3 linked regions of the Homo sapiens genome follow. The protein of the gene in region 3 interacts with the protein of the main gene of each other region in a pairwise test. Each region holds a gene or a part of one and is shown on either strand. Other genes may lie near its edges. The genes, in order: PKIA, DUSP23 and MRNIP.

Evidence for each region.
Region 1: the proteins of MRNIP (region 3) and PKIA interact in binary tests that used the Homo sapiens proteins (3 or more experiments, as listed by UniProt).
Region 2: the proteins of MRNIP (region 3) and DUSP23 interact in binary tests that used the Homo sapiens proteins (3 or more experiments, as listed by UniProt).

What each region holds. Positions count from the first base shown.
Region 1 is NC_000008.11:78,517,829-78,528,894, forward strand, and holds part of PKIA (cAMP-dependent protein kinase inhibitor alpha), read left to right. Parts: intron 1-11,066. UniProt on the Homo sapiens protein: Extremely potent competitive inhibitor of cAMP-dependent protein kinase activity, this protein interacts with the catalytic subunit of the enzyme after the cAMP-induced dissociation of its regulatory chains.
Region 2 is NC_000001.11:159,774,200-159,785,102, reverse strand, and holds DUSP23 (dual specificity protein phosphatase 23), read right to left. Parts: upstream 4,142-10,903; 5' UTR 4,003-4,141; coding exon 3,736-4,002; intron 2,951-3,735; coding exon 2,765-2,950; 3' UTR 2,560-2,764; downstream 1-2,559. UniProt on the Homo sapiens protein: Protein phosphatase that mediates dephosphorylation of proteins phosphorylated on Tyr and Ser/Thr residues. In vitro, it can dephosphorylate p44-ERK1 (MAPK3) but not p54 SAPK-beta (MAPK10) in vitro. Able to enhance activation of JNK and p38 (MAPK14).
Region 3 is NC_000005.10:179,848,423-179,859,488, forward strand, and holds the start of MRNIP (MRN complex-interacting protein), read right to left. Parts: upstream 10,396-11,066; 5' UTR 10,375-10,395; coding exon 10,309-10,374; intron 5,016-10,308; coding exon 4,956-5,015; intron 1-4,955. UniProt on the Homo sapiens protein: Plays a role in the cellular response to DNA damage and the maintenance of genome stability through its association with the MRN damage-sensing complex.

The sequences.
Region 1 (11,066 bases), on a different chromosome or scaffold from region 3:
GTTGCAATAAGCCAGATTGTGGGGTATCTGTGTGCCAATGTTCTATTTAAAGGAAGATCTGTTATCTTTAAACTTAAAATTACAGAGACTGTCTGACTCAACAGCCATGCAATTTTATTTTAGTAAATTAAATTAGAAGATCAATGAAAAAGAGGGGCAGAGTTGGTAGCTTAAAATTTTACCTCTTTCTTTCCTCTTCAAATATTATTTTTAAGCAAAGACACTAGTATGGAAAATCGTGTTAATCATATTATATATCATTATTGCCTTTCTATTACAAATTTCGTTTTTACAAAATGCACTTTAGAAAGATTTGAATTTGTTTCTTTGTCTCCATCTTCAGTATATGAGGCATAGGGTGAGGGTGTAGGGGGTGGGCAAAGCCCACTACTGAGTGATCCACTCCAGGAACTGCCCCTTGGGGTCTTAATAACCTTATGTTCCTTTTTTGTTGTTGTTATTATGTGTTAAACAGGGTTTTGGTTTGAAATATTAACTTCTTGAGATTCTAGAATTTTTACTCAGTCACATTAACTATGAGGTAACAAAGAACAAGATCAACAACAAACCCTGTATTCTACCACCTTTTTTCTACTATTAAAATACTTAACCATATACATCATTATTCTGAATAATACTAATATAGAATAATAATGAATTTTAATATAGTTATTCTAAATAACCTAAGGTATATGAAATACAGATTAGTACAATTGATCTTAGAAATACAATGCAGTTTCTGTAATGTTGACAGTCACCTTTCTGTTGAAGAGCAAGTGCGTGAGAATATCCTAATGATGGTTAGAAATTCGAAGTGTCTATCATTTAGTTTCTGAAGAAACTAAACTCTTTGGCAAGAAATAGGTTCAGGATTAGGAGACTGGTGCTGCCTAAGGTGGAATAATACTTGCTAGTGATTTTGCAGGTGAGTTGAACCCACTAAGTTATGGACTGGAGTTGGAGAAATCTTGTTGAGAAGAAAGAAAACAAGTTAGAAAATTTAATTTTCATTTTAGTACAACTGAGGAAGATAATCAAACTGAAGGGATTCCTGAATTTGGACTTTGTTGTGTTTAAACAAGTTTGAGGAAAGTTTCTAAATTTAGAAGGCTAAGCAGAAATATATGTATGATTTTATGTCTGAAACTGATTTATGACTTTATATCCTTTCCTTAAAATGTTTCCTAGGGAGAGGAAAAACTAATTGGCTGGTGTTCAGAATTGAAAGAGGAATGAAAAATGGAAGGACGTGCATGATTAGATGCTAAATGATTAGATACTAAATGAACTGCAGGCACTTTTGTGTTTGACAAGATAGAACTGAAGTCAGTCTACTGCTCTCCAATTGTGTAAAAAAAAAAAAAAAAGTTTTGTCTGCTAGACAGTGTTACCAGATATTTAGAGAGTAAAAATTTAGGAGTTAAAGTTGCCCTCTTCTAACAAAATATCTTTTTCTGGTGCTGCATTACTGCCATTAACTACAATTGAAATAGCCTTAAGATTTGAGGCTGAGGCAGGAGGATTGCTTGAGCCCAGGAGTCTGAGGCTGCAGTGAGCCATGATGGCACCACTGTACTTCAACCAGGGCAACAGAATGAAACCCTGTCTCAAATTAAAAAATAAAAACTTTTTTAAAAGTTCAGAAATGTTGAAATGGAAAAGGAAAAAGAATAGCAATAATAAGGCTCAAATAGAAATGTCATTTCTATTCAACCAGTGACTCCACTGAGAATGGGTAGAAAAAAGTGCTATTTTGAAAGTTGCCAATGACCTCTTAATTGCCAGATTTCTATAATATTTCACCCTGTTCATTTTATAAGTCCTCTTCTATGTTATTCTTGGATTCAATATTTGTGTTTAAAAGGTAATATTAAGTACTATGTATCAGGCACTGTGATATCTCTTAATCTAATTTGTCACTAATTCCCTTAAAGTACCCCATGCCCAACCTAAACCAAGTGGATCTTCTTTCCAATTTGTACCCCATGGTGGCATGCCTATGTGTTTTCATTTATTCTGTTAGCCCATCCTCTTACATGTCGAAACCTTGTTCACCTCAGATACTGACTCACTTATGAAGCCTTCCCCATACCCATCTTCCTTCCCCAACCAGATGTGCCCCTCTCTTGTTTAAATTCCCATAGCACATTCTATTTTGGGTTATCCTTTCATGTGAACATGCTTTGTCTGCTCTTCTAAAAAAAACTCTTGAAAGCAGGGTCTGGGAATAAGTTTTTATTACCTGCAACTCTATGGTGTCTAGCTACATATATGTATTATAGGTGTTCAGCAATTTGATTTTAGTGAAGAAATAAGTTATTTTCCAGAGTTATAAATCTATCTACCTACACTCCTCTACCAGCCAAGTTAAGTTCTCAATATATGTGCAAATGCTAATTTGGTTTTTTAAAAATCATTATAGTAATAATAAATATACTGAGAGTACATTCAAATCATTATAATCTACAAAAGGTATTATGAGCTTAAATGTCCTTAAATGGATACTAAAAGCATGGTGAGCATAGCAAAACCAATCTTTAATGAAGACATTGTACCTGCTTTCAGTATTATTGCATTGAAGGCACCTTATGCATATGAGCATTTATCTTGTTTCAAGCCACTCATCTAGGGACTTTCATCTTTGGTATCTCATTTGATGTTTATACTATATGTGAATTTTACACTAAGAAAACTGAGGCTCAGAGATGTCACCTGAATGGCAGAGATTTTTTCCATATTACCACCCGCTCTTTGAAGTGTAACAGAGTGAGGGAAAACATTGTAAAAACATAAAGTCAGAGCCATCAGAATAGTTTCAAGTTGTTTTGTGATTAATCTTTCCAGTGCTTTTTAAACTTTTAGGTTAACATCTCAAACTTTTGATAACTCAGTAAAGTCTGTACATCTTCTCCCCAAGTACATACAGAAGCATACACATATTAATTTTGCATACAAATGCAGGTGTTTGTGGATTCACTAAAGCTCTCTTTACAGAATAGTTAAAGAACATCTATTTGTGCTCCCTTGGACAATATGTGTGTCCTTTATTAGCCCTTACATTTCCAGTACTTGAGATGAGGTTTTCCTTCTGTTTTTCTCCTTACTTTAAGACCTGAAATGAGAGCCCTTCACCAACACTGACATGAAGACAGCTGATGACTAGGAAGCAAGTGCTAGTGAAAATAGTGACTCAAAGAACCTTGATTCACAAAAAAGGCATGGAAAGGGAGCTCCGAACGTTACACATTCCAAATGACTTATTTAAGGTTTTCCAATCAAAGCCATTTTTACAAAAAAGAAACTGTTCTCAGACTTAAGAGTATTGTACTACCACATATGTGGGAAAACATTGCCAGCAGTTGATTGGTGTAGTTTACTTTGGAATATATTCAGTTCTCTTAGGATGGACTTATTAACTGTCTCAATATTAATATTTCTTTATGGTAATGCCATCTTCAGTAATATATTTGCTTTTGCCAAGTTAAGGAAAGAATGATAATTTATGTTCATCCCTCCTAGGTTCTAAAACAAGTGCCATCCTGAAAGAGCTGCATATCATTTTAGATTCATAAAAATGCATTCAGATTCTCAGCTGATACTTAAAGGGACTGGTACTAGCAAGCACGGTTCCTGATGTATTTAAAGAGCGTTCAAAGAGGTGTGACAAGAACAACATTAGTCTGGAAAAAAAAACAGAGATGGAAAGATAGAAAACTCAAAAGGACAACTTAAGCTGTTACCTTCTTTACATTTCCCAAATACCTTTTTTTGTACCAAAATAAGATTATAACTATATAAGTGTCTAAAATAAGTAAAATGTTATGAAAACTTTATAATGTGCTCCATATCAGGTAAGTTTATATTTTATAGATTTTATAATTAAAATTTTTTTTCTGGTAAAATATACGTAACATTTACTATTTTAGCTATTTTTAACTGTATAATTAACAATGTTGGGCAACTATCACCACTATCAGTTTTCAGAACTGTCTCATTATCACAAACAGAAACTCTATACACATTAAACAATAACCGTTCATTTCCTCAGCCCCTGGTAAACACTATTCTACTCTCTGTGCCTATGAATTTGCATATTCTAGGTACCTCATAAGTGGAATCACTTATGGAATGTTCTGGAACCCTTTCATACATATTTGTCCTTTTGTCTCTAGCTTCTTTCACTTAGTATAAATGTTTTCAAAGTTCATCCATATTTCAGCATGTATCAAAATTTCATTCCCTTTTAAGGCTGAATACTATTTCATTGTATGTATATAACACATATGGTAATTTTGAATTGCAAAACACTTTCAGTACATTGTCTATTACATTAAACATGGCTAGCATATAACACCACCATATTATCTTCCATAGATGTCAAGTAATATACACTATGAAGGTGCCATAATTTATTTGGTCAAAACCCATTGAAAAACATTTACTTAATTCCAAATTGTTTTGTGACTTCAAGTTATGTGGTAATAAACAGAGTATATTAATCCATATGTCTTTATATGTCAGTACTTTTACTTTTGATCAAAGAATGCTTGGAGTGGAATTATTGGGTCAGAGATTATGCCCAGATATTTATAGTTTGAGTACTCTAGATACTGTAGTTTATAGACTATAAAAATCCTAACATTCTGTAACAGATAGTATTACTGAATGTTCTGGAACCCTTTCATACTATCTTAAAAATGAATACAGATACTATAAGGAAATCAACTGAACATGATCCGAGCAAAGAAATATTCTCTCTTTTTTCATTTCCAGTTCATGGAGGAAAAATGCTATACACAAGTATTGAGAGAGAAAGTCTCTCAATCATGCATTTTTTTATCATAGATGACAAAGTGCATCATAGATGTCAGTTAAGTCTTGTAATAACAATGTGGAATAGTAGAAACATCTCTAGCTAGTTTTTAGGGTTTTTGTTTGTTTGTTTGCACCAGCAATAGGTTATTTGCATCAAACCTAATCTAAAATTTGGTCTGTTTGTTCAGATTTATGTACCTACATTATGGTAAATCTTTTATTTTTTTTTCTTAGTTTCTCTTTAATGTATTATTTTTAGTTTATTCTGAAATAGAATAATAAAGCCCAGTGATAACAGTGTCTTATTGAAGCTAAACTACAAAATATTTGGCGTATGTGAAGTATAAACAGAATTGGCAAGACTTTTAACCATCCTCCTCAGCAGAAGACAGTCTCTATTGCATCGGCCAGGAGAGGAGAAACAGAAGGCTTGCTGGAGATTGCATTAGTTTTTACTTAAACATTAAAATGCTAAAAGGACAAAGATGAAGCAACATGTCTTATAATATATGTTTGAGTATCTACTTAAAACTAAAGGGTTGCTAGAACATTTATTTAGTTGGACAGACACACTCCACAGTGTAGCTGACCCTAGACATGTCACAACTGCATTTTAAAGTATGCTTTTTCTTCAGTTGATTGGGGTGGGGGGAATTATTAATAAACATTTCTCCTATGGTTTACCTCTATCTTTATGGTTGTTTGATTAAACCCTCTTTGAAAAGCAGACGTAAAACAAATCAGCATTCTTATCTTTGTCTGAATAAGCAACACCATGGCCATACCTTCTTAATGCACTGCTGTGGTTATGAGACCAAAGGGTAGAAGCAGCAGTTTTTTGGTCATTGCAATAGTCACAGCAACACAACCTGCTACATTCCTCACTTATATACTGCAGAATCTGACCAAATAAACACAGAAAAGTCAGTAATACCTTTAATGCAATTCTTGCACAACTCTCCATGATCTTTCATACACAGCTTCTCTGATAATTGAAATGTAGAGGAAAATAACCTGAATGTTAAGACCCCTTTTCCATTTCCAAAATGTAATTTTGCTGGGACTTGCAGAAATAACATTGAATCTGAAATTAGTGGGCATCCAATGGAGTCACTAGAAATAATCTGTCAAAATCACTCAAATACAAATTTAGATTTAAAGACCAGGAAATTCTAAAGAGTAACTATGGTAATATATTAACAATTTAGGAAAGGAACATTATACATATATATTTATATAAATATTTATACATATTTATATTTATACATATATATTTATATATATATAAATATATATAAACATTTATATTTATATATAAATATATAAACATTTATATTTATAAATATATATAAACATTTATATATAAATATATATAAACGTTTATATAAACGTTTATATATATAAATATATATAAACATTTATATTTATATATAAATATAAATAAACATTTATATTTATATATAAATATATGTATAAACATTTATATTTATATATAAACATTTATATTTATATATAAATATATGTATAAACATTTATATTTATATATAAACATTTATATTTATATATATATAAACATTTATATTTATATATAAATATATATGTTTTTATATATATGGGTTTCTACTTATAAGGTATAATCACTGGAGAATAATGGATTTTTAGAAATGATTCATTCTGAAAAGACTATTTTACCACTTTTTTAAACTAGTGCCATCAAAAATAAATTGTGACAAGTCACTGTCATCCAAGTTAGTCTCTCACGTGGCTCTCAAGGAAGTGAGTAGTTCTTGGGGAAATGGCTTTCTTCAAATTTGTGCTTTCCTGCAGTGAGTCAAGCTGAGATAAAATGGGGCTGATGTTCTTAACTATTTGTTACATGCCCATATTTATTAGAATTACCTAATAATCAGTAAAAAAGAGTTTTATGATAACTAAAAATGTACCTATTGAGACTCTCCATTGATAAAAGTTGGCTAAGATACAGCTGGTGATCCTGTAGAAATCTAAATTACATTTTTTTCATCTTCTCCATATTAGAGAATAACTCAGGATTTCAAAGCAAAGCATGAAAAAGTAGCATTTGATATATTTTATCAATGTTAAGATTTCTGGGGAGCTTATCAGCATCATATACTAAGCATTCAATAAACGTAAATTGTTATTTCATAAGTAAAATATCAACAGCATAAAAATTTCTGTAACTCAAATGGCCAGTATGGTACATGGCTTTAATACAGGAGATTACAAAACATTAGTTGAACAACAAAATGAACTAATACCATTTATTTCTGAAAGCTACCCCCCAATACAAAATGATTGGTATTCTACACAAGCTCATTGTGATTGCTTTAGTATATGTGGTAGGAGTAAATTATGGATAGAACTACCCTCTTCCCTGGTTCTTTTAAAACCATACTTTCTTCCCTCTGGGGTATTATAAGTTGGAAATTAGAGGTGAATCATATTTTAGTCTGGAATTTATCTAGTAAGCAGTTCAAGACACTTAACCATGCACCATCTGTTTACCCAGGGCAGGAAAACATGACATTCCCCTTTTCAACTATAGCAGATGGGGACTTTTAGAAAACTCAGAATGCAAGATAGAGATTATAATGATGGAGTATTAGTCAGCACTTCTTTTGTCTGCATCTCTTTTTCAATCTCATTGATTGTAAAGAACACAATCAGAGATAAAGTACAGTTACTGTCAATTGAAAATGTTTTCAACCTGCATATAGGTGTGAGATAGTGGGCCTGTCACATCTTCACGAGATATGTTGGAATGACTATTTCACCACAAAATTCAAACGTGACACTAAAATTATCTGACACTAAACAGTCCATTAAATAAGAGGATGAATGTTGGCATCTTGCTCATCTATTTAGAAAAGAAAAATCACTAACAGTTTTAGGCAATACTTAAATGTTTAAATTTTTTCTAATAAAATGGAAAATGAAATAAAATGGCATTACGGTGTTATGAAAGCAAAGCAATTAGGTTAATCTCAAAATGTCTGACTGTAAAGTTGTAACAATTTTATTCTTAGAGCTCTCAGGCAGCTTTTAATCATTTTCAAGTTCAATCAAAAAGCTCTAACCATTATCATGAATATATTCTGATCACTGGGCTTTCCTCCTCCCTTTTGCTATTTATTTTTAATTTATTTATTTGGGGACATTTTGGCTACCACTTATGTCTAGATCATGTTTTTCAGGAAATGAATGTGGGCTTTGAATCATACCTTTACCATTTACTAGCTGTGTGATTTATACGTTACTCAACCTCTGTGAGTTGTTTCCTGATATTTAAAACAGGAAAATCACCGAGTTGTGGTGAAGATGAAAGAAGATAACATAAAGGAGAACTCAGTGAAGTGTCTGAAATATACATGGTAAAGGTTAATGTTTTCCATTTTTATCATTTTTATTTCCACTGACAATTTACACAGCCAGACCTCATTACTACATCTTTTCCCAAATGTTCATGAATTATTTTTTCTACCCCTCCCCATGTAAGTTAAACTTAGCCTTGAAATGACCCTGAATCTCACTGGAAAATGTCTTAATGCAGACACTGCCAGTGTCAGGAGAGGTTGGGTCCACTGTAATGCGAGGTTGTTAGGCTCTGATCAGCAGTGGCTGTGGGAATTAAACCTAGCTTCTATATTTAACTCTTCAAGTAGTTGATTGGATCACCTGGCAAAAGTCAATTGGCTAGCAATCCTTCACCTTATTTTCTTTGAATTGTACCACATGTCTAATCACTCGTTTCACTGGCTCATTATCAGAAATGATATTACGGGCATTAAATAAGGGTGCTTATTTCAGAAGCAAAGTGCCATATAAAATAGGAATGTCAAAAGTCTTTGAAGATCCTATTTGGCTAACTCAAATAGTTGTTGTTTCCAATATGCAACTATTGGAGAAGTTTCATATTATTAAGTTGTCCAAAAACAAAAATTAAACTAACTCCATTGTAGGTCATACTTTTGTTGGTCTGTGATACATTTCTATTTTATTGAAGCCCGAAGAATTTACAGAGACCGTGCAAGCATTATTATTCAGGGACTTGTTTATTATTAGGTGCTACTGATTAGATGTGATGAATAGCAAAACTGTTAAACAAAATAAAAAAAAAAAATAGAGCCTCACTTACTGTGGAATCTTTACTAGGAGAAACACCAGCCTATAAAAGTTGCATTTTTAATGACATATTTACATTAGTATGATGACAATTTTTGTTGGGCTTGAAAAGCACACAATTTTACATTTTATTTTTCTTATATGGATTTCTGTTATTGATATGGGCCATTTGGGTTTTAAAAAACAAGTACAAAAACTGTGTAGGACCTTATATTTAATATGTAAATCACATTTATTTACAGGGGAGAATTTTGTGGTGAGCAAGAACTGCAGCCAAATTTGTGATAATTTATTGCAGTTGGTAGAGTCTCTTCATGTATTCCTGGGAACAGAATAACTTCACTCTTTCACGTAAAAAGTATAAATCATCAGTGTAAGTTTGTCTTAAATTTCCAAGCCAATATTGTTAATCCCTATTTAAATACTGAACTGATTGGCTGTTTACCAAAGGCTTGAGGGGTAAATTTGGGGCATAGTCTGAATTAAGATGAGATGTTGGAAACAATGAAAATACCTGCTTTAAACATGTATGTACATACAAGTATACACATATATTACACATATTTTATGTATATTATAAACTATAATTATGTATATGTGTATCTATGTATGTATTCATTAATATTTTCTTCCTATTTCAAATATTTGATTCCTTGAAAGTTGGATTTCATTTAAAATAAAGAGACAAGTGCTTGGAAAAGCATGTGAAAAATCTTTGTTTCCAGAGCCAAGTTTAACAAGGAAAACTTATTTTTTCACTGGCAGTTTGTTTTTCAAAGTTATGAGAATATGTTTAAGATTTTAAAGTGATTTATTTAATAAATGAGTATGAATATGAATTTACCTATTTCAGATTGCTTTATATGTCATATTAATTTTTAAGTATATATTTATCTGTTTAAGCTTTTCTGAACTAGATCTTACCAGGTTATAACTACTGTCCAATTATATAAGAACAACAATATAGTTGCCTTTCAGCTTGAAAAATGCACCTGTTTCATTTTGTTATTTTTTTAACCCATAAGTTATTTGGCCTTCCATCAGCTTTTCTGTCTTGAGGAATACATTGTCCTATGCATAATAAATTATTTTGTACATCTATGTTTCATGCCATAATTTTTTAGTGTCTCACAAAGTTCTAACTTGGAAGGTACTCTTTTAAATCAAGTTTTTCAGAATATAGACTTGTTCTTTGTGAATTGTCAGATCTGTTTTTTAGGTATTTCTCCCATTTTGGAGAATGAGTAGAGAAAACTGTACCATGGGACATTTCAGTTCTTTTTCTATACTTACTGCTAATAACATGCCTTCTCTTAGTAAAGCTAGAAAGCTGAGAACTGCAGTTAAATAGCCCCAAGGTAGGACATAGGCGAAAAATACTAAAATTTGTTCAAGTACAGTAAGAGAACCAAATTTGGTCTGGCATTTAATTTAGTCTTCCTCACTACCCTAACCCAAGTAGTATACTAGTAACTAGACTTTTAAAAAACAGCCATTTGTTGATTAATGGTGCCTATTTTTGTTTCTGCTTCATTTTAACTTTGTTTCATAACACTATTATACAGAGGCTTATTTTAACAAATGCCATTAGTTGGATCATTGAGTTTTTCTTCCGCTTTATAACTGATTAGCTCTACAGTTCAAAAATGCTTAAAGGCCAGACCTGTCAATTAGAAGATATAAGCACAATAGAAGTGATGTTTCTAAAATTAACTCTGGAATACATCTCTCTTAATGTTAAATACATATAATCTGGGACTGGGTGCAGTGGTTCATGCCAGTAATCTCAGTGATTCAGGAGGCTGAGGCAGGAGGGTCATTAAGGCCACAAGTTCAAGACCAGCCTGGCCAACATAGTGAGACCCTGTCTCTAAAAAAAAAAAAAAAAAAAATTACAAGTCCAGGCATGGTGGCTCATGCCTGTAATCTCAGCACTTTGGGTGGCCAAGGTGGGGGGATCACCTGAGGCCAAGAGTTAGAGAACAGCTGGTACTGTAGCGAGACCTCGTCTATAAAAAAAAAAAATTCCTTCTGGATCATTTCTAGAACACAAATATTTGTGACATTTCTTTAGTGTTTTCATTTTTATTAAGTGTTATATACTCATA
Region 2 (10,903 bases), on a different chromosome or scaffold from region 3:
TGGGAAACCAGCCAGGAAAAAGGCTGACGGACCAGGGATGGCTACCAGACATTGCTTGAAAAGGTAGGAGGTTTGAGTTGGTCCTTTCTGTCCCATTAAGATGTGTGCATCCACAGGAGACATTACCAAGTATGTTCCCACCTCCACTCCCAGAGGAAATGAAAGCCAATGACTGCATCCAGTGCTTGTTGGTCTCATGCAGTTCTCAGCTGAGGCTGATTTTGCTCCCCCAGGGAACATTTGGCAATGTCTAGAGACATTTTTGTTGTCACAACTGGGGGGAGGAGGGGTATCCTACTGGCATCTAGTGAATAGAGGCCGGGCAAACTGCTAAAGATCCAACAATGCACAGACAGCCCCAACAACAAAGAATCACCCACTTTCAAACGCCAATCGTTGAGATATCCTGGTTTGAGGCGAATGTTCTTTTTAGATGGTGGCACAGATCATCTATCTCAGCGTAGAAAGGGAAGGGACATGGCTCGTCTGTTACCCCTTATTGGTAGCCATAGACATAAGAGGGCTTGGTGAGAAGACAAAAACAACTGGGAGTGGAAACGAGCCCAAAGGAAGCCACAGGCTAACCCACCAGGTAGATGGAAGGATAAGGGCAGAGTTTTTCATTTCAAGCCAACTCTTATTATTTAAAAAGCAGTTTCCTTAAGCACTTAATTATACGTGTATTTCCCTAAGGAACTCTTGAGGCAGAGGAGACTTGCTTAAATTATGGGGATGGAGGCAGTACACAGGGCTTTAATGGGGTTAGCAAAATTTTGTTTCCCTTGCAGGAGCCTTGGGAGGAAGGGAAGGGCATATTCCTCTTCCACAGTGCAGAGATGTGGGGAGGATGGAGTGACACAGGAACAGAGGCAGAAAGGGCAAGGATTGGTTGTATGGCCTAGCAGGTGAGGATCAGAGTGGAGACACGAACTTGGGGAAGCTTCATGCCTCACACCTCTCTCTCTCTCTCTCCATCCTGGTAAGCCCTCCGACTGGAGGGGAGAGGTTCAGGAAGTGGCCCATTCACACCCTTCATGCCCTACTCCCTTCACATGAAAATACACACACACCCCTTTGGAAGATGTTCTGGTTTGCATCAGAAACAGAATGGGGCCATACTATTGGGGGAGGGGTGGATGGGGGAGAGCAGGGTAGACAGAACTTTTGGTGACAGGAGGGTAAGGGTTTCAGTGCATCCTCTATTTGCATTCTCATTCCTCTGTTGCAGCTGGAATGCCTGGAATGTGTGGGTTTCTTCTCTTTGGGAGACATCCTCACTTGAGTAGGCTAGGTGGAGACTAAGCTTGAAGGAACTGATCACTCAGATTTGACAAATAAAGTTAAACTGGGGAGAGGGCATCTTATGGCCTTAGATTGGCAAGACTTCAGCTGATATCTCTTGTTTAAGGTTGAGTTGGACAGGGATGAACTGGGTGGTTAGTGGTGGAAGGGGGAAAGCAGCAGAAAGGAGGACCAGTTGGCTAGGCCTGTCTCTGGTCTATGATACAAAAGATGAGATCTACAGGGGAACCCTTGACTCCCCACTCTTCTATGTCTCCACTGGAACTGGAATGCATGTCTACAATAGCATCCATTGTCTGTGGTGGACTCTATCTGTGCCCATCTTCTCCAGCAGGCTGAGCTCCTGAGAGCAGGAATTATGTCTCATTCCACTGTGCGGCCTCCAGATCTAACAGAACTCATACAGGTACGTACAGGAACTCACATATTTTATGGTGAATTTCTATCTTATTCAGCCTGCTATTGCAGAAAAGACCACAGGCAGACCTACAGTAAAGAGTCCATTGGGCGGATATATGCCATTCTTCCCATTTCTCATAAGTCAAAAGTGTAGTGGTGCTGGCAAAACAGGGCCCAACAAGGGGGCAGAATGGGGTCCAATAGGGGATAACTGGAGATAACATCTGAGAAACATGGCCAAGATTTAGAGCCCTGGAACTCTTCATTTAATTGTTAAATATCTGCTCTGCATAACTGCCTAGATTGGCTCTGTTCTCAGGTCCTTTGGCCTGAGGTTGTGGGGCAGCAGAATGAGCCAGAGAGCCCAGATGAGCTGAGCAGCACCTGAGGTTGGTAAGAGGTGACCAGCCCTGTGGAGGTGGAGATGGTGGTTATCTGTGAGTGTGACATCCAGGCTGTCTCTACCCCCAGATAAACAAGGGTGACACGTGTGCAGCAGGTGGGCCTACACGGAGGGGCCTCCTGGCCTGTGAGCATCAGAGACCTGGGAATGCCAGGAGGCCAGGCTATTCTGGACCTGAATCCTTTTCATTGACTAGCTCCCCCAGAAAACACATCAAATATTGTCAGGGAACAGATACATAGCATTTCAGCATCTTCAAGGGATTGAAGACGTGTGTTGCTGTTCTGGCCCATCCTTCCACTTTCTAGAAGTGTTGAAGATGGGCCTCTCTGAGCTTTGCCCACCTCATCCAAAGAACAGAGATGGCCCATCTGTCTTTCCTGTATCACAGGGCTACAGTGAGGCTGAAGTAAGTTAATGTGTGGGAATGCTTTATAAAGTACCATGCAACGTGCCCTGGTTCGTAAAACTCATTTATTCAACAAAGCAGTACAAGCCTCCCCTTCAATCAGGACCTGCCTGCAGGGGTGGGCTACTTCAGTGTCTTCAGCCAATGGGAGCTAGAGGGTTTAATACTTTAGTCCACTTCCCTTCATCTCTGGCCCCATCGACAACATGGGGAAGGGGAGTGAGGGCCTGGTAGAAGGGTACTAAGGCCCCTTATTTCGTTCGCTGGTAGAACTGGAAGACTGCTTTCTCCTGCTCATAGGTCTCGATGGAGCCGGGTCGTAGTCGTCGGATTTCAGCAATGGCATCTCCTGCAGCCAAGCCCCGCTCCTTCACCAGGTAACAGGCCAGCATGGTGCCAGTGCGGCCAAAGCCCAGAGCACAGTGCACTCCCACAGCCTACGAAGAGGGGGCTCGATGGGTGCCACTCAACTCCCCCACCCACAACTGTTTCCTGCCCCTCACTTGGTTCTCCCCACAGCTCCTTCTTCTGTGCCAGGTCCAGGGCTCTGCAGCAAAGTCAGGGAGGGCTGTCCCTGCACTAGGTGGCTAGGAGGCCTCTGCACTGGCTGGTTCAAGAGCTGTCCACCTCTACACAGCCCTCCACCTGTGGTGTTCAATACAGAAGACAGTAGCCACGGCTACTGTGGCTACTGTACTCGAAATGTGGCTAGTCCAAACTGAGATGTAGTGTGAAAAACGCAACAGGGTATGAAGAGGTAGTAGAAAAAAGAATGAAAATATCTCATTAAGATCACCAAAGTTAATTTTATCTGCTTCCCTGCTTTTTAAGAATGCCGTTGCTAGAAAAATTAACATTACATGGAGCCACTTAGGTTCCATTATATTTGGACAGCTTTACTCTAGAAAATGGTAAACAGCCTCCACCTGACTTCAACCCCCACCTCTCCCAGGTGTCTGTCCACACCCTTCTCCTTCACAACTCACAGTATTAGCTGGTTTTCACTGCCTCTCCTCAAGCCCAGTTCGCACTGCTTCGCCCTCTCTTTAGTTCCTTCCGTTTAGCGCTTCCCTCCCCCGCACTGGCTTCCCAGTCTCCCGGCCCTACTGTCTGCCTCCCCGAGCCCAGTTAAGTTATCCCAGGCCCGGTCTCCCCAGCTCCGCCCGTGTCCCCCGCTGACCTTCCAGGCCCCTCCCTCCCTGCGCTGACCCCGCCCGCTGACCTCTCCCCGTGCGTTGGCCTCGTCCACGATCTGCACGAAGCGGTCGATCTGGTCGGGGGCCGGCGGGCAGAAGTCGGGGATGCGCAGGCGGTGCAGGGTGAGGCCGGGGCAGCTGTCGCTGTGAGGGGGCCCGCGCTCCGTCAGGGACACCAGGTGCCGCACGCCCAGGTCCAACAGGAACTGGTAGTGGGCGGGGAGCCGCGGCAGCGCCAGTCCCGCCAGCCGGCCCGGAAGCACCCAGGAGAAGTTGGGGGGCTGCACGCCCATCGCTGGGAAAGGGCACAGGACAGCGGGTCATGGGGGCCGAGGCTGGCCAGCCCCGCTCCGCCCACGCGTCCCCTCGCCCGCTCCGAGCCAAGTAACTCACCACCTACCTGGCCTCGGCGCCTCCCGGGCCACGTGGTCTGCAGGGCGCCGCCCTCGGGTCGCTCTGCCCAGCCGCGGGGATTGGCCCAGAACCTGGGGCGGGGCTGGAACGCGGAACCCAGTCTCTGAGCGACCGAGGGAAGCGCCGCGATCCCGCCCCGTCCGAGCAGATCACGCGGTGATTGGCTGGATCATCATAATGGGCGGGGGGTTACTTCCACGGGGTTCAACCCACTCAGCTAAGAAGGAAGACCTGGAGCGAGTTAGGAATTGTTTGCTGCGGATGGAACAACCCGGGGTCGGGCTCTGCTGCACCCTGGCGGCATGTTGCAGTCATTGCGTCACTGGCGCCTGCCCCTGCCTCCTCGCGGGCCGGCCTAGTTCTACCTCCTTCACGCTGGATGCCCTGGGGTTTAAGAGATGACAAATCGGCTTTCTCCCAGGACGAGGAGTCTCCTCTCTAATGATTGACTGGTCGTTATCAGCGACTTTTTGAACTGTTCCAGTAAGAGGGAATTACTGCTGCAAGGAGGCTATTCTCATTTTTTCATTGCTGGAACTATTAAAAACTTACCCAGGGTAATAATTATAGTAATAATAATAACCAGCACCAACTTCTCCTGTCAATCCAGTTGCTCCTCAGGACTTATTGAGCATTTATTATGTGCTAGATAGTCTTCTAAGCACTTAGCACATACTGACTCATTTAATTGCCACAGTAATCTTATAAGATAGGTGATCTAGTGAATCCCATTTTATGGATGAAAAAACAGAGGCACTGGAGAGGTTAATAAACTTGACCAAAGGATGATGACTAATGCCTCCAAAATCTTTAATAATATCGCCATTTCCTAAAGTTAAATGGAACATTGTTTTCTCTTCACATAACCCCCTCATGTCCCCAAATATTATCTGGGTTAAACGCTTGTGGGTTTTCTTAATTTTTATTAGTATTTCATATTTCTTCATTTTTCAAGGTTTCCTAGTTCTCTGGGTCACTGTCCCCTGGGCAGGCTAGAGTTGATTAGTGTTGTTCTTACTAGGTGGGGGCCCCTAGATCTGAACACCGTTTCCACTGTCATCTGACCAGTCCATATCCTCATTTGAATAATGTGCTTCTAGCGATGCAGACTAACTGTAATTATGAAAATAGTTAACCCTTATTGAATTTGTTTATGTACCAGGCCCTGTGCCAAGCGCTTTCTGGAAGAACCACATGTGAAAGGTATTTTTGTATCTTTTTTTGTACATGAATCATTGGAAGCTTAAAGAAGTTGGTTAACTTGGCCAAGGACACAGTGATCCAAGCCCAGGGCACTTGGCCATGAGGATGTATTATATTTCCTTCCCTTTGCACCCACCTATGACACACGTCTGACCATTTAAGCCTTTGGCTTCAGCAAGATGGAAAGCAATTTGTCTTCTCCTAAAGATCAAAGCCTGCTCTGACCCTGTGGGAAATACACTTACCATTTACCCAGACAATTACTTTCCCCAGGTTCCAGGAGGTGCCAAATCTCCCCTTTTTCTCCTTCCAGACAATCACAGCCCTCATTAAGCCCTTCCTGTTTGCACTCTCATTTCCTACATAAATTCCTATCAAGGTTACCAGCCCTCCCCAGTTTATTCCTTTCTCTCTTTCCCAGCCATGGCCTCTCAGCCACCAGTCACCTCTTCCCCCAACCCCCTGACCTCCCACTTCTCTTCTCAATTCAACTGCTCTTCAGGATTTCTGGTTGCACTACCTCTGGAGACAAGACTCTAGCATTTGTTCTTGTAAGTTAATCTTTTCTTAGTCCCTTTGCCTTGTTCTCCTTTCTTTGCTTCCCCTACTCACCAGGGAAGTTTCCACTTCACTCCCTACCCTCCTATGTGCTCCTTCTTTGCCTCCTTGATATCCAGCTCGAAGCCCATATTCTCCAGAAAGAGAAAATTTTTTTGGGAGACCGAGATCTTCCTCTTCCCTGAGTCCCCTACCAATGATTCTCTCCCTCTTGTGGGTTTCTGCAGGGCTAGCAGTGCATCCATCAAACCATTAGGGCCTCCATGTGGAGAGGCCAGTTGGCTCCCTTTTTAGGAAGCTCTGCCCTTCCCTTCCAGCAGACCCAGAGTGGAAAGGGCCCAGGGTCCCTGCCTTAAGCTTTGTCAAGGGTGCCATATGTCAAGGGTGCCATATGATGTTTTGTCTTGGGCCCAAGGGGCCTCAAACTGTAAGGAAAAACCCTCTCTGATGGTTTCCTGGCTCAGACTTCTGCAATTAACAGGACTTCTGCAACTAACCACCTTCTTGTCTGCCCACATACATGATACTGACCTTCTTTTATTCTCTCCTCTGTACAGAGTTACCTGACCCTCAGGAAGATTTAGGCTTTTTTTTTTTCTCCCATCTCACCTTGTATAAATATGTCTTCTCAGTATAGTAATGTCATTGGATTGAGGATACTTGTTTGCAGAGGAGGCAAGAATGCGTTGTTCCGTTTTTGAATTCCACACATCTAATATGGAGCCTGAGCCACAGGGCTCAAAATGTTAAGTAAACAAATGAATGGGAAATTAATAAGAAGAATGCATTGGCAAGACCGTGAAGGTACATTTCTAGGAGTGAATGTGAGTCTGTCGGACCATGTGGCAATGTGTATTTGTAATTCTTTTTAAATGCACAAGTTTGAGGACTGTGTTGAGTATTGGGTAGTATCTCTTTGAAGTGTATTTTTTACTTGACTGTGCTTTTAAATAAAGAATGGCTGTGTCAGTATGATCTTGGCTATGTCTAATTACTATTTTTGTGAAATGGGACAAATAAAGCTTGTTCTTTATAGAGCACTGCTCTTGTAGTGTGCATGTGTGTGATGGCTTGTGTATTTGAGTGCTTTGGAGGGGCCGTGTTCCTGGAGAACAATCTATTGACACTGATGGTGGGCTGAGTAGTAAGCTTAAGAAATTTCCCTGACTTCAAGGAATTTACAACATCCTTGCGGGGGATTTAGACTCTGATGTAATTATTCTCAGGACATATAATAAAGTACTAAATTGCTCATCAAAGACAATCAGATAATACATATTAAAAAGCTAATTGTGCAGTAAAAACAAGTGCAAAAGAAGTCAGTGGGGGAAAGATAAGCTTGAATTGGAACTACCAGAAATGTCTTATGAAGAGAGGGATTTTTCTTTCCATTTTGTCTACTGTCCAATGAAAAGCTCAGCAGACCCAGCAATCCCATTACTGGGTATATACCCAAAGGAATACAAGTCATTCTTTTATAAAGATACATGCACCATATGCTTATTGCAGCACATTCGCAATAGCAAAGACATGGAATCAACCTAAATGTCCATCAGTGATAAAGAAAATGTGGTACATATACACCATGGAATATGATACAGCCATAAAAAGCAATGAGATCATTCCCTTGCAGGGACATGGATGGAACTGGAAGCCATTATTCTCAGCAAACTAACACAGGAACAGAAAACCAAACACTGCATATTCTTACTTACAAGTGGGAGCTGAATGATGAGAACACATGGACACATGGGGATGGGGAACAACAAATGCTGGGGCCTGTCTGGGGTGGGGACTTGGGGAGGGAGAACATCAGGAAGAATAGCTAATGGATGCTGGGCTTAAAACCTAGGTGATGGGATGATCTGTGCAGCAAACCACCATGGCACACTTTTACGTATGTAACAAACCTGCACATTCTTCACATGTACCCCTGAACTTAAAAGTAAAAAATAAGGCTTAACAGAACATTTTTTAGGGCATCTCAGCTTCCCTTTTTCCAGCTGATAAGAATGTTTTGACTTAGTTCTTGTTCATATTGAGGCCCCAGTCCCCTGTTTGGCTTGATGCTAGTGGCAATTAGGGGTGCAATTGGAGTCAGAGAATTTCTTCCTCCAGGTAGGTCCCTGTGTTCCACCAATGCAAAGGATTGCTTGGGTTCAGGTTCCTGTGGCCCTTGGACTACAGTCAGAATTCTCAGTGTCCTCAGTGTTCTGATTTTTTAATGTCTAAACACACTTCACACCTAAGATCTGATAATCTGGAAACTGAACCTAAGAAGAAATGGTATGGCAGCTAGCTTCCAAGATGGTACCCAATGAGCCATTTCATGCCTGTGTAGTGCTTTTCCACATTGATAGGGCTGATTTTTGCAACCAGTAAGATATTGTGTAACTGGTGGTGTGTGACTTCCTAGGCTGCATCATGAAATACTTAATTTTTGCCTTGTTCTGTCTTGGAAAGAAGGCCTGCCATGGGAAGCTTTGGGAAGAAGCCAGCTGCCATGTTGTGAGAACTCTCAAGCAGCTGTGTGGAGAGATCCATGTGGTGAGGAACTGAAGCCTCCTACCCACCATCAAGTCAGTGGCTCACTACTGTTGCAGTGAATTCTCCAGCCCATGAAGACTTTAGATGATTTACCCAACATCTTGATTATAGCCTCATGGATTCCCTGAGCCAGAACAACCCAGCTAAGCCTCTCCTGAATTCCTTACCTACAGAAACTGTGAGATAATAAATATTTATTCTTTTAAGCCATCAAATTTTGGGTAATTTATTATGCAGTAATATGTAACTAATATAGATAAAAATATTCAGTTTGAAGGAAAGAAGAAAAATAACTTACAATAAACTCAAGAAATAAAATAAAATTAAAACAAAGGTTAATTCAAAAAGAAAGAATTATACTGTAAGCAGTTGTGGTCTAAGTGTGTGTATGCAGGAATGTTGTGATAGATCAATGCAAATTTTCCATATTTGGAGAACCATGCTGTCTGTGGGGGAACCAACCAGAGTAGTCTGGGCATGAGTTTTGTGTGTGTGTGGTGTTGGAGGTATAGGTTGCTGTGGTATTTGTATGGTTAGAGATGATATACAAATTATTTAATGATTGGTCATGGCACAAGAAACAAGCAATTAAAATGGAACCTCTACCAGAACCATTACCTGCAAACAAACAGTGAAGCTACCCTGGTGTCAGTTGGATGTGTGTCAGCTTTGGGTGTAGAGGCGCTGAAATGGTCTGGGGTGTGGTCAGATTACCTTGGACATTTTAATATAGGTCTTTCCACAAGATGGCACTGATAGCTTTTCCTTGTTTCTCTTTTTTTTGTCTTGTTGAAAAATTTGTGATTCGTATACTGTTGCAGAACATACCATAACTGAAATCTCCCAATTTACTAGTTGATTTCTTGTACTTTTGACAAGTCAATTGCCTTTATGGCATTTAAAATTATGGTGTTTTTTTCTTTTTTTTTAGATCATCCCAGGAGCACATTAAAAGTTTAAGTTGGGGTGTTGGGAATGCTGCCTCACATCAGATGCTATCATCATGGGAGCTGGAGATGGGGAGGGAGGTGGGGACTAGGCTTTGGTTTTTGAAAAGCCATTCAACAAAGGCAGGTGAGAGTGGAATCAAGAGGGAGCATTCAGTTAGGGAAGAGGCACTTCTGTGATCAAAACCATGTTGGTGGACTCTCTCACTTCTTCTGTTTACGCTGCCTCGAGCCTCAGCTGAGCCATAGCCTGGCTGGCACTTTGATATCAGCCTGAGGAGACCCTGAGCTTAGGTTCAGCTAACCTGTGGCCAACTTCTGACCTACAGAACTGACATCATAAATGGTGTTTCTTTAGCCATTATGTTTGTGGCAATTTGTTATGCAGCAATAGAAAACCAATATAGTTGCCTTTATTTACTTTATTTTCTTATCTTTAATATGCTCATCACAGCACTAAACCTTTGGAGTTTCTAAACTGGTGTATTGCTTTTTTTCTTTCCCCTTTGTTTTAAGTTTTTCGGTCTCTAAAACTATAGGCCGCATAGGTTCATTTTCCAGTGTAGATGCAACAAATATGATGAACCAATGGAACTCACAAACTGTCAGCATCTGGTTTCGTTTTGGCACCTTCTAAACTCCTGGCTGCTCCCTCCACCACCTTTAGACCAGTGCTTCTCAAGGTGTGATCCACAGTTGATGTCACATGGGAGCCTGTGATAGATGCGGAATCTCAGGCCCCCCGACCTGTGAGATCCTCAGGTGGCTCATAAGCACACCTATGACTAAGAAGCCCTGGTGTAAGACTTGTTTGTCCTGCAGCTCTGTTTTTCCTTTGGTCATCGGCAGCATCCAGAAAGTGGTCTGGTCACAGAGGTAGTGAGTTGATCTCCAGGTGTCTCTTCTCTGGAGCTGAGAAGTTTTAGCTGAGCAGGGATATGGGTGGAGGAGCTGATCAGCAGAGGGAGAGGCCTCAAAGGGGCCTAACTGGCCTGGGTGAAAACTTGAGGTCAATTAGAACCACCTAAGAATCCTGGATTAGAACAACACATTGGCTTTATCTACGGGTTAGAAAGATGTCCAAGAAAAACAGGCTTAATGTACATGTACCTTTCCTGTTTTTTGTTCCAAGGAAGGGCTTGGTTTCCAGATTTCCTTTCTAGAGGAATGCTTGAAACATTGCTTCCTACTCTACCTACCTTTACGTTAGTTTCCAGGCAAGGCAAAAAGTGCCCCAGTCATTATCCTCCAATTTAAATGTCTCTAGCCTCCCTGTAGCTTAGGGGAAAGAAGGCACCATGGACAACCTTTTTTCACACAAGCCCTCCTTTCCCCTCTGTAGCAGACCTTCTTCCCACCCAAATCCCATCCCCCAAAACCTCCTTAGGACCCATCATCTCTGTGGATCCCTGGACTGGCCTCCTGTATTCCGGCCTCTACACATTTCCCCTCTGTGAACCTGCAGAGACTTTTACAGAGCATGGATGTTACTTTTCCAGTTCTTCAATAACTCCTTATTGTCTTC
Region 3 (11,066 bases):
ATATGAAATGATACTTACCTTCACTGATAATCAAAGGAATACAAAATAAAATACATTTTTTCCCACTTACCAGTCACAAATTCATCCAACAAATATTTATTGAATACCAACTGTGTGCCAGGCCTCATCTTGGGGTAGACAATACAGGAATGGACAAGACTCCCTGTCATCATGGAACTCACATTCAAGTGAGAAGAGACAGGAAAGAAACAAGTGAGCCATATAACCTATCAGATGCTAGTAAGTGCTCCTGAGAAAGACAAGGCCAGGAAAGAGGTCGTACATAAGAGCATACCGTTTTACATAAGGTGTTCAAAATGGTCAAGAAATGCATCTCTAAGAAGGTAACGTTTGAGCACAAACAGGAAGATATGAAGAAGCAACCCACATGGCTGTCTAGGGGAAGAACATTCCAGCAGAAGCAATACATGAGAATGAGTGTGAAGACCCTGAGCCTGAAATTTTGGAGGAACAGCAAAGAGGCCAGCATCGCTGGAGCTGAGGGGTCTAAGGGGAAGACGGTACGAGACGGAATTTGAGAGCATGGGTCCTGCTATGGCACAGGCAGATGGTACAAGACGGAATTTGAGACCATGGGTCCTGCTATGGCACAGGCAGATGGTACAAGATGGAATTTGAGAGTACGGGTCCTGCTATGGCACAGGCAGATGGTACGAGACGGAATTTGAGACCATGGGTCCTGCTATGGCACAGGCAGATGGTACAAGACGGAATTTGAGAGTACGGGTCCTGCTATGGCACAGGCAGATGGTACGAGACGGAATTTGAGACCATGGGTCCTGCTATGGCACAGGCAGATGGTACAAGATGGAATTTGAGAGTACGGGTCCTGCTATGGCACAGGCAGATGGTACGAGATGGAATTTGAGACCATGGGTCCTGCTATGGCACAGGCAGATGGTAAGAGATGGAATTTGTGACCATGGATCCTGCAATGACACAGGCAGATGGTAAGAGATGGAATTTGTGACCATGGGTCCTGCTATGGCACAGGCAGATGGTACGAGACGGAATTTGAGAGCATGGATCCTGCAATGACACAGGCAGATGGTAAGAGATGGAATTTGTGACCATGGGTCCTGCTATGGCACAGGCAGATGGTAAGAGATGGAATTTGTGACCATGGGTCCTGCTATGGCACAGGCAGATGCTACGAGACGGAATTTGAGAGCATGGATCCTGCAATGACACAGGCAGATGGTAAGAGATGGAATTTGTGACCATGGGTCCTGCTATGGCACAGGCAGATGGTAAGAAACAGAATTTGAGACCATGGGTCCTGCTATGGCACAGGCAGATGCTACGAGACGGAATTTGAGAGCATGGATCCTGCAATGACACAGGCAGATGGTAAGAGATGGAATTTGAGACCATGGGTCGTGCTATGGCACAGGCAGATGGTACGAGACGGAATTTGAGAGTACGGGTCCCGCTATGGCACAGGCAGATGGTACGAGACGGAATTTGAGGGCTCGGGTCCCGCTATCGCACAGGCAGATGGTACGGGATGGAATTTGAGAGTACGGGTCCCGCTATGGCACAGGTAGATGGTACGAGACGGAATTTGAGGGCTCAGGTCCCGCTATCGCACAGGCAGATGGTACGAGACGGGATTTGAGACCACGGGTCCTGCTATGGCACAGGCAGATGGTACGAGATGGAATTTGAGAGCATGAGTCCTGCTATGGCACAGGCAGATGTTAAGAGCCTGAATTTGAGATCCTGGGTCCTGCTATGGCACAGGCAGATGGTACAAGACGGAATTTGAGAGGATGCGTCCTGCTATGGCACAGGCAGATGGTACGAGATGGAATTTGAGAGCATGCGTCCTGCTATGGCACAGGCAGAATCAGCTTCAGGGTGTGACAGCCGCTCTGCTGTCGCCATCTTGAAATTCTTAACAGTCTGGCCTTTGAACCTGTGTTTTTTAAGTGAAGTGTGCTGGGACAATGGAGCACATCTGTGATCAGACACACACACTATACGTGTCCAGTGTTCCTCAACACCCCACTGGCAGGAGCATTCTTGATGTCCCGTGAGCACAGAATTCTGGTGGACTCCCAGTGCCTGGCAGCTAGTAAGTCAAGTGAGAACTGAGAACCAACCGTTGTTTTTAGCAACACAGAGACCACTGCTGACGCTGACAGAAGCAATTGTAATGGACACGTAGGGAGTGCAGTCCTGTTTGGAGCACATTCGCCTGAGAACGGAGAAGAGTAGCTGGAGGGGGAAATGGCAAAGACCAGGCTGGCATAACCAGTAGCGGTGTGCTCTTCCATAGGGCAGGGACTGCTGGATGGATACTGAAGCGCATTCTTCCCGAAAACTAGATGTCATTTTCCAGTGTGCGTGTGGTCAGGGGTGGCCACGAAACCAGCCTCTTTCCATGGCACTGTCACTTGCTTCCCAGCCTGGCCCTCAAAGCCTCTCGGTAGCTCCTCCAAGCACCTGCCCTTCTCAGTGGCTAGAAGCACAGTGGCTAGAAGCAGCTACAGATGAGCCTCAGGGAATAGAAGCAGCTCAAGATGGCAGGAGCTTGGATCCCTGAGCAACCACATCAAGGGCAGCGCCCTGCTGACCTTATCATCTTCCCAGGACTGTTATGAGAGCAAGAGAAACGTCTATTGTATTAAGCCACCACAATTTTGGTGTGTTTGTTACTGTGGCCTAGTCAGCCATACACCACATACCACACACAGCACAGAGGCATTGAGGGGAGTAAGAAGGCTTCCTCAAGGAGAATGTAGAAATATATACATCTCAAACAAGCCATGCTCACCATGTGGGGTGTCTGCCTACCTGGTAAGCCAGCCCCTCTCTTCTGAGACCCAATCCCAGTTGACTGGACCAGAGGTGGGCATCCGAGTCAGCCTGGGCCAACCAGGTTGCTTCTCCTAGGAATTTATAATTGAGACTCAGCTCTTCCAGTTGGCTTGGAATGAGATTCTATGGACTTGGAGCAGAGAATCTGACTGAACAGTCTGGGGAGAAACAGAAAGGGAAGGAGAGGAGAAAATAGAGTAAAGATATAGGGAGAAGCTGGGTGATGGGCAGGAAAAGCTGATGTCTGGCTTGTTGGCAGCTTTTCAGTTCTTGGGGCTAGTTTTTCAAGGGACCGGGGATGAAGTTCTGCCCTTGGATTCCCTAAGAGATCTCATTACCTTGCCAGCACTTTATTTATTTATTTATTTATTTTTTAACTTTGCTGAACCCATTCTGAAGTGTTTTTTTTCCCTTTTTTAAAAAAAATATCAGCCAGGCACGGTGGCTCACGCCTGTAACCCCAGCACTTTGGGAGGCCAAGGTGGGCAGATCACGAGGTCAGGAGATTGACACCATCCTGGCTAACATGGTGAAACCCCATCTCTACTAAAAATACAAAATATTAGCCGGGCGTGGTGGTGGGAGCCTGTGGTCCCAGCTACTCAGGAGGCTGAGGCAGGAGAATGGCGTAAACCCAGGGGGCGGAGCTTGCAGTGAGCGAGATCGCACCACTGCACTCCAGCCTGAGTGACAGAGCGAGACTCCGTCTAAAAAAAAATAAAAAAATAAAAAATATCAGGTGAAGGCACTCACCAACATTATGAAATGTTTTTGTCTACGGAGGCAGGTGGATCATTTGAGGTCAGGAGTTCAAGACCAGCCTGGCCAACATGGTGAAACCCCGTCTCTATTAAACATACAAAAAACAAATTAGCTGGGTGTGGTGGCATGCATCTGTAGTCCCAGATACTCAGGAGGCTGAGGCAGGAAAACTGCTTAAACCCGGGAGGCGAAGGTTGCAGTGAGCCGAGATTGCGCCACTGCACTCCAGCCTGCATGACAGAGAGAGACTCCATGTCAAAAAAAAAAAAAACCCCAAAAAACAGCAATTTAACTTTTAGGACTTTGTCCTAAGTAAACAGTAAACAGCTGGTCACGTGGATAAAGAGGTTTTTGTGAAAAGCTTCACGGTAGAGTTGTGCATAACAGTCAAAAGGGAAATCAACCTAAATGCCCAACAAGGTTGGGCCAGTTCCTTACTCACTCCACAAACACCGAGCACTGTGCTAGGTGCTGCGGATACACCAGCAAATAAAAAGCCTCTGTTCTCACGGAACTTACAGCCTTAGATGGACAATCCGTGCATAAACACATGACTATGTAACTTCCATAGGATACTGAGAAGAGGGAGGGGAACTCCACAGTGAGCACAAAGGCCTGAAGAGGGAGCAAATTTGGGTTTAAGGTCAGAAAGAAAGCACATGGCTGTAGAAGGAGAGGAAAGATGAGAGGTGAAGGGAGAGGTGGCACTGGGGCTGGAGCAGGAAAAGAGCAAGTTCAGTAAGGCAAAGGATGCAGGACAGTTTGGGGTCCTAGAGTTCAGGAGGGGCAATACGGATGGACTGAAAAGACGTACTGAATGCCAGCTGCAAACAGCTGGATGAGAGCATTTACAGCCTGCCCCTGCCTGCCTCCACTTCCTGAGCCCACTATCCCACACCTCCACCTCCACCAACGGCCTCTGCCCTTCCCCGGCTGCCCTGATTCCTCTGTCATCTTCTCACAGTCCCCAGTGCTTTCCTTTCCTTGTGCTCAGCCGAGTTTTAAATTATGCAGATGCATGTGTGCATTAGTTTCTCTTCCCCTTCCACACAAGTGCATCTGTGAGGGCAAGAATGACAATGGGCTTACTTTCCACTGTTCCCCTTGTGCTTGGCACACAGAAAGTACTCAAGAAATACTTGCTGAATGAAGAATCAAATGGCAGTACCTTTCCAGATTCTGCTCCATCCATTTCACTTCCTGAAGGAACAGGAAGCTCGGAAGCAGGAGCTCCGTGTCTGGGGAACTCTGTTTGAGAGAGGATGATCCCAGCTGTGGCATGCTGGGACTCCCTGGAAGGGCTCGCTGCAGGCCTGCGCCCCACTTGCTTTCTGTTTTGTAGGACTCACCTGCAAAAAGGACTGCTTCTCTCCACAAGCTTTGCATGTCCACTTGACACTCTTTTTTACCTGCAATGAAATTTCAGAAATACAACTCAGATAATTATTTAAAACAAAATGGAATTGGGCTGGACTCGGTGGCTCATGCCTGTAATCCCCCTTTGGGAGGCCGAGGCGGGCAGATCACAAGGTCAGGAGTTCGAGACCAGCCTGACCAATATGGTGAAACCCAGTCTCTACTAAAAATACAAAAATTAGCCAGGCATGGTGGCGGGCACCTGTAATCCCAGCTACTCAGGAGGCTGAGACAGGAGAATCGCTTAAACCTGGGAGGTGGAGGTTGCAGTGAGCCAAGATTGCACCACTGCACTCCAGCCTACACGACAGGGTGAGACTCCATCTCAAAAAAACAAACAAACAAACAAAAAACAAATGGAATTGGATCTGAAATTTTTTTTTTTTAAATCCCAAGTAGCTGGGATTACAGGTGTGTACCACCACGCCCAGCTAATTTTTGTATTTTAGTAGAGATGGGGTTTCACCATGTTGACCAGGCTGTTCTCAAACTCCTGACCTCAAGTGATCCACCTGCCTTGGCCTCCCACAGTGCTGGGATTACAGGTGTGAGCCACCATGCCTGGCCTGAAATAATTTTTTTTTTTTTTTTTTTGAGACAGAGTCTGGCTCTGCTGCCCAGGCTGGAGTGCAGCGGCGCAATCTCGGCTCACTGCAAGCTCCCCCTCCCGGGTTCACGCCATTCTCCTGTGTCAGCCTCCCGAGTAGCTGGGACTACAGGTGCCCGCCACCACGCCTGGCTAATTTTTTGTATTTTTAGTAGAGACGGGGTTTCACCGTGTTGGCCAGGATGGTCTCGATCTCCTGACCTGGTGATCCACCCGCCTCGGCCTCCCAAAGTGCTGGGATTACAGGCGTGAGCCACCAGGGCTGGATCTGGCCTGAAATAATTTTAAAAACTGATGGAAGGAGTCCAGAAACAAACCAAAGCATGTGTAAACATTTAGCGTATCATAATCATAAAGGTGGTACTTTAAAAGTGAGAAAAGAACAGACTATTTAACAAGTCCGGGTTGGTGCTGGGAAAACTGGCTATCTGTATGAAACACAATCAAATTGGGCTGGGCACAGTGGCTTGAGCCTGTAGTCTCAGCGACGAGGGAGGCCAAGACTACTCGAGCCCAGGAGTTTGAGGCCAGCCCGGGTAGCATGGCAAGAGGCTGTCTCACAAAACCAAATCCAAACAAAACAAAACCACTCTGAAAGACCCAAATTGAAGCTGTAAAAAAAAATTCCATAATATTCCTGTCTCGCAAAACCAAATCCAAACAAAACAAAAACACTCCGTAAGACTCAAATTGAAGCTGTAAAAAAAATTCCATAATATTTAAATTCTTGTTAAACTTGGGTCTAAAAAAAATTCCGTAACATTTATTTTCAATTCTTGTTAAACCTGACTAGATGTGTTCTCTCTTAACATATAAAATGCCTAAAACCCACTCTAATGCTGGAGAATCTTTACCAGCATTCCACATGGAAGTCAAGAACAAGCCAGGGTTGCCCGCTATTATTTACCATTTTTTTCTGGATGTACTAGCCAATGGAATTAGAAGAAAGTTGTAAGATGTATAAAAATTATAAAGGAGCGGAAAACCCTATCATTATTTATAGACATAATTATAATACCTGAAATAACTCCTGACCTCAAATGATCTGCAGACCTCGGCCTCCCAAAGAAAAGCCAATTTTTTAATTTTAATTTTAATTTTAATTTTTTTGAGACGGAGTTTCGCTCTTATTGCCCAGGCTGGAGTGCAATGGTGAGATCTCGGCTTAGTGCAACCTCCACCTCCCAGGTTCAAGAGATTCTCCTGCCTCAGTCTCCCAAGTAGCTGGGATTACAGGCACGTGCCACCACGCCCGGCTAACTTTGTGGTTTTAGCAGAGACAGGGTTTCATCATGTTGGTCAGGCTGGTCTCGAACTCCTGACCTCAAGTGACCCACCCAAAGTGCTGGGATTAAAGGCATGAACCACCAGCCCGGCTGCTACCTGACATAATTTTTTATCCGAAAACCAACATAATGAAATGAGAAGCCACTAAAACCAGATAGTCTAATACAGTGGTTAGGTACAAAATTAAGATACCTTCAAAAATTAATATAGCTTTTATATGAGCAGACATCTAATTAGAACACATAATTGATAAAGAGTCCATTTATAACAGCAACAAATAAAATGTTACCAAGGGATACCAAGGTTACTTGAAGAAACGTAATGGATCATGTTTAACACCACAAAGATGTCTAGGTTGATCCATTAACATTAATACGATTAATATGATCCTAATACAAAATCATGAGGTTTTCGGGGGAAGTATCCAAAAGGATTCTAAGGAGGACAATGAGCACCTACCAAAAATTGAACTGGGTAATGACTTAGCAATTTTACTTCTCAGCTTCTACCTTAAAACACCAATAAAACTGTGGATTTTCTATGAGTATATAAACAAGTAAGAAAAGTTGTTTTTTTTTTTTTTTTTTTGAGACAGAGTCTGGCTCTGTTGCCCAGGCTGGAGCACTGTGGCGTGATCTCGGCTCACTGCAACCTCTGCCTCCTGGATTCAAGTGATTCTCCTGCCTCAGCCTCCCAAGTAGCTGCGATTACAGGTGCCCGCCACCACGACCTGTATTTTTTGTATTTTTAGTAGAGACGGGGTTTCACAACATTGCCCAGGCTGGTCTCGAACTCCTGACCTCATGATCTGCCCCCCTCGGCCTCCCAAAGTGCTGGGATTACAGGTGTGAGCCACCGCACCCGGCCAAGAAAAGCCTTTTTAAAAGTTTAGGACTCACAGAACCTGGTAAAGGAATTAATTGTGGGAACTGCTGAGATAGTATGGTTCTGCCACTCCCTAGATGGAGAAACCACTTGATTCCCGTGTATTTCGGAATTCTCATGTCTCTAAGATGGGAATGATGCCTAAGTCAAAGGTTGTTGAAGTTAAACGTGTTAAAGTAGTACACAGCCGACTTGCAATTAAAATTAAAGTAGTACATAGCCGACTTGCCGTCCTCTTTGGTTTCAAGTAATTTTTCTTTGTTTTTGAGACAGGGTCTGGCTGTCGCCCAGGCTGGAGTGCAGTGGTGTGAACACGGCTCACTGCAACCTCTACCTCCTGGACTGAAGCGATTCTCCTGCCTCAGCGACCCTGAGTAGCTAGGACTACAGATGCGCGCCACTACATCTAGCTATTTTATTTTGAATTTTAGTAGAGACAAGGTCTCGCTACGTTGCCCAGGCTGCTCTGGAACTTCTGAGCTCAAGTGATCTGCCCTAGTGGGCTTCCCAAAGTGCTGAGATTATGGGCGTGAGCCACCGGGGCCAAGCAACTCACATTTCATAAGGTTGAAAATGACCACGAGGGTCAGGGGCGCTGGCTCACACCCGTAGTCCCGGCACTTTGGGAGCTAAGGCGGGAAGAACACTTGAGCCCAGGAGTTCCAGACCAGCCTGGGCAACACGGCCGAAACCTCATTCCTACAAAAAATATAAAAATTAGCTGGGGATGGTGGCCCACACCTGTAGTACCAGCTACGTGGGAGGCTGAGGTGGATCAGCTGAGCCCGGGAGATGCAGGTTGCAGCGAGCTGTGATTGTTACCACTGCACTCCAATCTGGGCGACAAAGCGAGACCTTGTCTCAAAATAAATAAGTAAATAAATAAATAAATAACACTGGTGAACATGGAAGAGTGAAACAGGAAAACAAACAAGGAAATAGAGGCCGGGCGCAGTGGCTCACACCCGTAACACCAGCACTGTAATCCCAGCACTTTCGGAGGCCGAGGCGGGCAGATCACGAGGTCAAGAGATGGAGACCTTCCTGGTCAACATGGTGAAACCCCGTCTCTACTAAAAATACAAAAATTAACTGGGCTTGGTGGCGCGCGCCTGTAATCCAAGCTATTCGGGAGGCTGAAGCAGGAGAATCGCTTGAACCCAGGAGGCGGAGGTTGCAGTGAGCCGAGATCACGCTACTGCACTCCAGCCTGGCGACAGAGTGAGACGTGAGACTCTGTCTCAAAAACAAAAAAAGGAAATAAAAATAAACGGAAAATTTGTTTTTAAAAAACAGCATGAAACATTAGACGTGGAATAATTTAAAAATGCAAATGATCTCCCTTTATTTGCAACTCTTAGGACCCAGCTCCCGAAAGAAAATAAGTAAAAAGTTTCTGAGCCCTTAAAATGGCCCTTACAAACGCTTAGCATTAAATGCAAGCTTACAGACACATACTCAGCATCTTGCTGACTTTTTAACATACCTCTTAAACAAGTCTGATCCACGCCGGGCACAATGGCTCTCGCCTGTAATCCCAGCACTTTGGGAGGCCGAGGCAGGCGGGTCACCTGAGGTCAGGAGTTCGAGACCGGCCTGACCAACATGGAGAAACCCTGTCTCTATTAAAAACACAAAATTAGCTGGGCATGGTGGCGCATGCCTGTAATCCAGCTACTCGGGAGGCTGAGGCAGGAGAATTGCTTGAACCTGGGAGGCGGAGGTTGCGGTGAGCCGAGATCGCGCCATTGCACTCCAGCCTGGGCAACAAGAGCGAAACTCCGTCTCAAAAAAAAAAAAAAAAGAAGAAGAAGTCTGATGCTATTCTTTCTCAGGGCATAGCAGATTACCAATAATTAGGAGGGAGGGACTATCAGAAGCAGATACGGTGACTGCAGTGTTAAGTGATATCAAGCAGGGAGACAGGTGCGATCCGGAAAAGGTTAAGTGGCATTCTCTATCTGGCACGCTGAAAGTTAGGGAGGCAAATATGTCCTAGAAACACAGATTATCTGTCTTTAAGACTCCGGGGCCCGTGGTTTATGCGTCGGCGAACAGCCATATCAAGTCCCTGGCCCCGCGGAAACGGACGGCGGCAGAGGCGCGGGGCGACGGAGAGGGCGCCCAGGTGTGGAGCAGGGACGCCGCCGCGGCGCGCTCGGTCTCTAAGAACCGTCCTCCCCCTCTCACTGAAACTGCGACAGCGCTACTTCGTGGGGTAGGCTCTGCGTAAAGGATGCTATACTCAACCGGATTCTCCCACTACCTGCTACAATTCACAAGAGGCCACCTCCGCAGAACCATTACCTCTGGTTTGTACAAGAACCAAACAAAAAGCTCAGAACGTTATGCGGGGGCGACCCCAATGAGACCCGCCCTCAGCGGTCCCTGCACTCCTTCGGGCCCGGTGCATCCCGGAGCCATTCGAGACAACACCCACAGCCCCGCCACTCCCCGTCCGCTGTCCCCGCGCCGGAGGAGGAGGAGGGGGCTGGCACCCGCCAGACCTGGTGCGCCTGGAAGAGGCGGCAGCTGCAGCAGCGTAGCACCCGAGAACGCTGAAGCGACGCCATCCCTGCTTGTGCAGTCGCCAGGCAGCCAAGCGCGTGCGCTCTGCATTTGTCCCGCCGCGGCCCCGCCCCACGCACGCGCTCCGAACCCTCTAGTCCCCTACGCCGTCTCGCATGCGCTTATACTCTTCGCTCCGGCCGCCGCGGCCCCGCCCCTGCGCACTGGGATCCCTCTAGCCTGCCGCGCCTCTCGCTGGTCATCTGCGCCCCTCCGACCTCGGAAAGAGTCCTGGGTGCGGGATTCCTGGTAGCCGACTCGTCGTCTGACCAGGGCCGTGCCCGCATCTTCCTAAGGCACTGGTTCCGGCCCTGGGGAGACTGGAATTGAGACGACAGGGCCTCCGCTGACCAGTCCTTGGACACAACGCGGAGCGGGGCTGAGGGGCCGCCCTGCCAGGCCTGCGCTGCCGTGCTTTTAGGTAGCAGCGAACAGTTAGCCTTTGAACCGGAGCCCGGGGTGGAATACGGGGAGACGGAGGGGCTCACCACACCCACGCTTCCCGGAGAGGGCGGCGGAGGCGCGCGGCCGCCGAGCGCGAAGCCGGTCCCCCTGCAGCCCCGGGAGCGTCCCAGGCCCACCCTACGGAGGGTGGAGGCGCCCCCGCAGCCCGACGCTCACGCCGCAACCCTGTGTGGCTTAGGGTTGTAACCTCGTTGGAAAATAAAATACAAAAAATATTAAAATTACCTCCCAC